Linked DNA regions of Homo sapiens. The protein of the gene in region 1 interacts with the protein of each later gene in a pairwise test. Each region holds a gene or a part of one and is shown in the gene's direction. Other genes may lie near its edges.

Region 1 (3,927 bases):
TCTTTATTTAATTTTACCTCCATTTCTCTTGGCAGACTGGGCCTTTTCTAAAAATCCCCAGAGTGCTAAGTGTTAGACCCCCCCTAGGTAATCCTTTGCCAGCAGTCTGTGGCCTCCTAGCTACTCTTACTACTCAGTCCCCCTCTGATGTTCAGGTCTCACTGGCCTGCACAGATATTTGAACACACTCCAGGCAACCAGCCAGCTCATTTCATACCTCTAGTGGGCTTGCTGATGTTTTCGAAAAGGAGAAGCCCTTGCTAGCCGTGTTTATGTGGCTTACTGTTTCCTACCTCCCATCAGCAGACTTGCACACACGTCCAAGGATTGATTCTGGTGTCTGAAATGATCTTTCGAGGTGAGACAGAGGCTTTTTCTTTGGGCATCTAGTTAACCAACCTGTCAGTGTCAGACTACTAGTATAACCTGGCCAAATTTAGAACAAACCAACCCCCATTGGTACTTCAAAACGGTGACAGTGTTAGCATTCTGCTGTGCCCCTGTGCCAACTCTTCTAGTACTCGCCGTGCACATACCTTCAAGAAACCTCTTCCTTCCCATCTAGGACCTAATCCGGAGAGACATCCTGTACTACAAAGGCCGCATTGACATGGATAAATATGAGGTAGTTGACATTGAGGATGGCAGAGATGATGACTTCAATGTCAGCATGAAGAATGCCTTTAAGCTTCACAACAAGGAGACTGAGGAGATACATCTGTTCTTTGCCAAGAAGCTGGAGGAAAAAATACGCTGGCTCAGGGCTTTCAGAGAAGAGAGGAAAATGGTACAGGAAGATGAAAAAATTGGTAAGTGACCTGAGAGTAGAAAGAAGAACATGGCTATGAAGAACATAGGAGGTTTGAATTGGTTTCCATTTTCTTGGAGTCAGAGGGAAGATTTCTGTTGCAAACTGACTTAAGCTACTTTGGTGGTTCCTTATTATTAGGTTCTTTTTGGTAAGTACCAATAGCTTCCATTAGTCAGTGGTAGGTTTGAACTATAGGTTGTCCTCCCCTACTAGCTAAGAATATCACACTGAAAGCCAGCCTCAGGCTTGATTCTCCCAAACATACATTTATTAGCAAATAAACAAAAATCAGTTATACAACCTGTTCTGTAATCTTCATAAAGCCTGAGCTCTCTGTCATTAGGTATATAGTTTGTACTCCTGATTAGGATACTTCAGATGTTAACTAAATCCCCCTAGACTGTAGATTCAAATAATATGCACATACACTTCACACTTTCTGTGTGGAAGTATTTAAAGTAAATTATAGAAAATATAACAGGACTTAAAACCATGACCATTTTCATGATTTCAAATCACACTGAAACATACTTTTTTGCCTTACAATAAGTTGTTTCTCTTTTCCAGTGGGGATATAGATAGTAGAGATATTTTTCATGTTGCTTCCCAACTGTGGGATTTAGACGCCATTGGCTATAGCTTTGTGACTTATAAAGTACTGTCTGGTCTCTTGCTCATGGTCCTGCCTTTCTGTCATAAAAAATACCAAGCAACCAGACTTGTTAATTCCCTGAGAAGACATACAGTTTCTGTCTTTGCCCTATTGCTTATGGGAGTGAAATTGTACTTTAGAAGGCCTGAAAGCTCAAGTTTATGGAAATTGTCTCTAGAAAAATGGGCCTACTCATTGAATCCTGGTGCAAAAGGGTTCTCTTATCCTTCCATGTGGGCGATTGAAATTATCCAGAGGTAAGAAAGGATGGTCAGAAAGACAAATCTAACTCCAGTCTTCTCCTCAGAACTTGGGTAGAGTGCAAATTAATAACTCACTTTGAGTCTCATTGGAATCAGACTGCTTTCAGTATGTGGACACTCCATTGGGACATGATGTGGAGTGGCATATAAATGTTGCTGGCTACTTCTCTCAATAGCAAGCAGCAGCAGCCACTGACCTTGCCTAGGCTGTTAGAGTTATTAAAGGAATGGTCTTAGTGTTCAGACCCTGAATCAATTAGAAGGCCCCTGCCATTCCCATTGGCTCTAACACAATGTCTCCCACACAATGCCCTAATAAACCTGTGACTTTATCTGCTTCTAATAGAAAAGCTTCTAGAAATTACTTTCTGAACAGGCATATGTTCATCTTTAAAAATGTTGAGGTTTTTTTTTTTTGGTTTGATAATAACAGTAAATCACTTCCATTGTAGGAAATTTAGGGAAAAAGCAACAGAAAAGTACAAGAAAAAAAAAAAACACATGAACATACTCAGTAATAACTTTCATAAACATTTTGATATATATTTCCAGCCTTTTTTATGTGTCTAATTAGAAAAATCAAGGTGACTGAATCTTTTTTCTTTCTCTCCCCATACCTGCCTCTCTATAGTGGATAGATATAATTTTGTATCCTCATTTTCACTCATCATTATATCATTAGCATTTCTATCAGATCACTTCATATTTTTAATCATTATTTTATGAGGGTCATATAGTTTTATCATAGCTTTTTTAAACTTTTACTTTTTAATTATAAAATTAATGCATGACCATTATAACCATTTAAACAAATATGGAAATATATAAAGAAAACTTAGCATTCCTTCCCCTTCTCTGTCACTTCCATACTGAATGAAATAACCAGTGTTAACAGTGCAGTATGCATCTTTCCATACTTATCTCATGTCCATATAAACATATACAAACATAATACTTTTATATTTACAAAAATTATATTATATATATTACCTTGTAGGTTGCTTTTTTAAACTTAATTTATCATAAGTAACTCCCCAGATAAATAATATAGAATCTAACTATAACCCCTTGTATCAGTTAGGGTTCAACCAAAGAGGCATAACCTGTAGGAGATATATCATACCACTGCTGAAAATTGCATTACAAGGAATTGGCTTATGTGATTGTGAATGTTGACTAAGTGGCTCAGAATTCCATAGAGCAGGCAGTCAGAAATGGAGGATCACAGGCAGGCTCAAACCCATGGACATAGGCCAAAGCTGTCATCTACAGGCAGTCAGGAAGAGAAGCTCATGAGAAGGATGAAGTGGCACAGACATGGGCTAAAGCTGTGGTGCACAGGTAGAATTTCTGCCCTTTCTGTGTGAGACCTAGGCTCTACTTTTAAGGTCTTGCAACAGATTCAGTCAGGTCCATCCAGATTATCTAGGATATTGTCCCTTATATAAAGTCAACTGATTAGGGCCTGTATTAGCCCATGTTCACAGTGCTATAAATACCTGAGACTGGGTAATTTATGAAGAAAAGAGGTTTAATTGACTCACAGTTCTGCAGGCTTAACAGGAAGCATCACTGGGAGGCCTCAGGAAATTTAGAATCATAGTAGAAGGCAAAGGGGAAGCAAGCATCTTCTTCACATAGTGGCAGGAGAGAGAGAGAGCAAGAGGGAAGTGCCACATACTTTTAAACCATCAGATCTCGTGAGAACTCACCCACTATCATGAGAACAGCATGGGAGAAATTCCCCCCATGATCCAATCACCTCCCACTAGGCCCCTCCCCCAACACATGGGGATTACCATTCCACATGAGATTTGGGTGGGGACACAGAGCCAAACCGTATCAGGGGCTTTGATTATATCTGTAAAATACCTTCATGGCAACACCTACATTAGTGAGGACTACAGTCTAGTCGAATGGGCACATCAATAAATTCATCACACTTTTCTTATAAACAGCTGTATAACATTCCATAATATTATGTAATAACCACAGTCATCTCTTGGTATGCACGGGATATTGGTTCCAGGACTCCCGTGCATATCAAAATCCATGGATGCTCAAATCCCTTATATAAAATGATATAGTATTTACATATAACCTATGTACATCCTCCATATACTTTCAATCATTTCTAGATTATTTATAATACCTAACACAATGTAAATGCTATGTAAATAATTGTTATACTGTATTGTTTA
Region 2 (3,927 bases), on another chromosome or scaffold:
CTACCACTATTGATATGTTTGTACAGAACTATATATCATAGAAATTAGCTGATGGTTACCTAAGTGCATTTCTTCCTCAGGCCAGTCATTTTCTATTAACATTATATCCTGAGGAGGCTTTAACTGAATTTCCCAATACACTTAGCCATAACCTAAAAAATAAAAGTCAAAAGATACTGGCACGTTCTTAGAGTCCTTCTCAGACATTAACAGACCAGAATGTCTCCCAGAATGATGCTACTCAGGTTTGCAGGCTTGTTGGATTCCAAAAATAAGAGTGGTCTCAGCAACATATGACTTCACTCTTTCAAGCATCTGTTACAGTTGAGCTAAGAAACAATGTCATCTCTTGTTCTGAACCTCTTTGGAGATACCAATGCAGTATTATTTCCCTTACTGCATAACCTATCCATTCATTCCTTTACCCTCAGCTACCATTCTTCCTTCTCTCTATTTATACCCAAACTTTTTCACCTTTTAAAGAGTTGTAAGGTTTGGCCACTGTGCTGATTCAGATTGCCGTTGGTAATACTAGTTTAGCAAGTTCCTCCTGCACAGTCTATTCCTATTCATTTAGAGTAGGATTGTATCCCTTACCTTCATTTTAGCTAGCATAGATAACAATAACCAAGAGATTGTGTGTTTAACTTCTTTCTTTATATTTTGCATCTCCTTATGCATCCAGTGAGATAACTTTTTGGGAATTATCTCCATTAACTAATCACAGTAAAGAAGCAATTCCATGCTGTGGTTGACACTGTCTTCACTCAGGGATCAAAGGTTCATCATCCCACACCCTCTCTTCACTTCCTAAGCCATGTATTTCAGTGAGTCAGGGTCTTTCTAGAAAATCTTATTTTTGACACCAACTGTAAGGAGTTTTAGCCAACTGCAAAAAATAGCCACCTACAAATGTGGAGTACTCCACAAAATTGCTCATTTCTGACCCTAATTGCAAATTCAGGAGATCCTAAAATGACCTTCAGGTTTAATAATTTACTAGCATTCATGGAACTCACAGAAAGCTGTTATACTCATGATTATTGTTCATTGCAAGGAAAGAATACGGATTAAAGTCAGCCAAGGGAGAAAGTGCATAGGGCAGAGTCTAACAGAAGTAACAAATGAGGAACTTCTGTTGTCCTCTCTCTTTGGAGACATGGACATGTCACCCTTCTGGCGTCAATCTGTGATACCACACATGGAGTAATGCCAGCTGGGGATGCTCACCTGAGCCTTTGGTATCCAGAGCTTTTATTGGGACTCAAACACTTACTGCCAGTGTGGCTGACCTGTAATCTTTAATCCTAAAGTAGAGAGAAGCAATTGGGGGCCTTCTATGTAGAAAGTGGGGTCAGAAGGCCAAGAAAGGGAGTATGAGTATATATCCAAGTCACTTAGGAACTTTTATGCAGGTGCAAAAAAACTTATGTCAAAGTGGCCACAAGATTATTTAATAGACAGATGAATGAAAGTCCATGTTTACTGCTAGACACGAAAGCTTTGTGTGAAATCTTGAATTAATGGGGAGAGAGGGAGGGTAGCCTATACCTGTCTGTTCTTTTCCTGATCCCTTTCCCTCATTCCTGAACTGCAGTCTAACATTGTTAGACTGTCTCTGGTGCCCAAAGTCCATGGACAACAAAGACATTCCTATTAGGCGTGAAATTCCAAGGACCTAGAGATCACTCCCAGAAGCTGAGTGTAAAGACCAGACCTCTCCTCGGTCAAGGTTAAATTCTTTACCACACAATCTTTAAAGAGTAAACTGATTGAGCCATACAAAGATAGGTCGAAAGATTAAACATCTTTCCCGATATTATGTAACCCTCCAAAAATTTTTAAGATTTTTTTTTTTACATCTTAGATTTTAAGCTATTACTTCAAATGTGAAAGAGAAAGACCTCCACCTCTTCTGCAGCTATAGCTGGCCTTATATTCTGATTTTTAGGTTCTTACCTATTCTCTTTTGGTAATACGTTATAGATAATAGTGAGCACCTCAGCAGCAGATTATATTAACTTTATGCAGTGCTCTTTGCAAGCTTATTTTATATTTTGCTTGCTGTACAATGTTACCTAGCTATACTTTATGATGGTAGTTAGAACTTTAGCTCTCTGGACAAAATAATCTGGTTCTCACCTCGGTTGTTAGTTCTACTGCCCTGCTCTAACTAAAAATATGAAACCTCTTTCCTGCCTTTTTTTAAACAACTTCAGTACCAATAAATCTTTATTCATTGTATTTTCCCAAGAAAAGGAGAAGGGATAGGAAAAGAGTCAGCATGTGTGTTAAAAAAATGATTAGAAGATGGGAAAAGAAGTAGAGAATACAGCAAAATCAACCATCAAATAAACATACCCCAGTGGTGGGGTCACCGAAGCCCAAACGGGCTCAATCTCCTGCAGTTCAAGAATGAGGGGTTGGGATTAGGAAAATAACAGACAGGTACAGGCTACTCTCCCTCCCCATAAATTCAAGATTTCACACAAAGGTTTGGTGTCTAGCAGTAAACACAGAGTTTCATTTGTCTGTCTCCTATTAAACAATCTTGTGGCCACTTTGACATAAGTTTCTTGCATCTGTGTAAAAGTTCCTGAGTGCCTTGGATATAAATATTCATATTCTTTTACTTAGCCTCCTGAGCCCACTTTCTGCATGGAAGGCCCCCAGTTGCTTCTCTCTACTTTTGGATTAAAGATTAAGTAGATTTGGCCAGGCGTTGGGGCTCAGGTCTGTAATCCCAGCACTTTGGGAGGCCGAGGTGGGCCGATCACAAGGTCAGGAGTTCAAGACCAGCCTGGCCAACATGGTGAAACCCCATCTCTACTAAAAATAAAAAAAAACTAGCCAGGCGTGGTGGCAGGCACCTGTAATCCCAGCTACTCAGGACGCTGAGGCAGAGAATTGCTTGAACCCAGGAGGCGGAGGTTGCAGTGAGACAAGATGGCGCCATTGCACTCCAGCCTGGGCGACAGAATGAGACTCCGTCTCAAAACAAACAAACAAAAAAAAATGGTTAACTAGATTTGACCCATCCAAGATACAGCAGTGTCTTAAGTGTTTGGCATGAATCACATCAAGAAATGGTCTTGACTCAGGAGGTTGGGAACAAGGGATGAAGGGCTCCTAGTTTCTTCAGGATTTTTGCATAAATCATTTAAGAGTTGTAGAAATAACGCAAGAATTAAATGTGTGTATGTGAGTATGTAAGTTTTCTCTTGGGGAGGAGGGGATGGAAAAGAGGGTAGTATACAAGTTTTTAGAATGTATTTATTTATTTATTTTTAGAGACAGAGTCTCACTGTGTCACCCTGGCTGGAATGCAGTTACACAATCATAGCTCACTGCAGCCTCAAACTCTTGGGCTTCTTTCCTATCTTTCCTGTCTTTCTCATAATGCATCTTTCAACTACCAAGTTGTATATAGAAATTTTACTTTTTTTAAAATGCAGTGCATGCTTTTTTTTTTTTTAGAGAATGAATCTGATTCTGACCATCCATGCCTGTCCTCAGTCTTATTTTTTTTTATTTTTCCATAAGTTATTGGGGTACAGGTGGTATTTGCTTACATGAGTAAGTTCTTTAGTGGTGATTTGTGAGATCCTGGTGCACCCTTCACCGAGAGGTATACACTGCACCATATTTGTTGTCTTACCCCTCACCCCCCACACTCTTTCCCATAAATTCCCATAAGTCCCCAAAGTTCATTGTGTCATTCCTATGCCTTTGCGTCCTCATAGCTTAGCTCCCACATATCAGTGAAAACATACGATGTTTGGTTTTCCATTTCTGAGTTACTTCACTTAGAATAATAGTCTGTAATCTCATCCAGGTCATTGCAAGTGGTGTTAATTCATTACTTTTTATGGCTGAGTAATATACCATCATATATATATAAAATAGTTTCTTTATCCACTCATTGAT

Evidence for each region.
Region 2: the proteins of ARHGEF9 (region 1) and GPHN interact in a two-hybrid assay, tested with the Homo sapiens proteins (one study listed by BioGRID).

Annotation. Positions count from the first base shown.
Region 1 is NC_000023.11:63,652,376-63,656,302, reverse strand, and holds part of ARHGEF9 (rho guanine nucleotide exchange factor 9), read left to right. Parts: intron 1-565; coding exon 566-809; intron 810-3,927. UniProt on the Homo sapiens protein: Acts as a guanine nucleotide exchange factor (GEF) for CDC42. Promotes formation of GPHN clusters.
Region 2 is NC_000014.9:66,917,072-66,920,998, forward strand, and holds part of GPHN (gephyrin), read left to right. Parts: intron 1-3,927. UniProt on the Homo sapiens protein: Microtubule-associated protein involved in membrane protein-cytoskeleton interactions. It is thought to anchor the inhibitory glycine receptor (GLYR) to subsynaptic microtubules.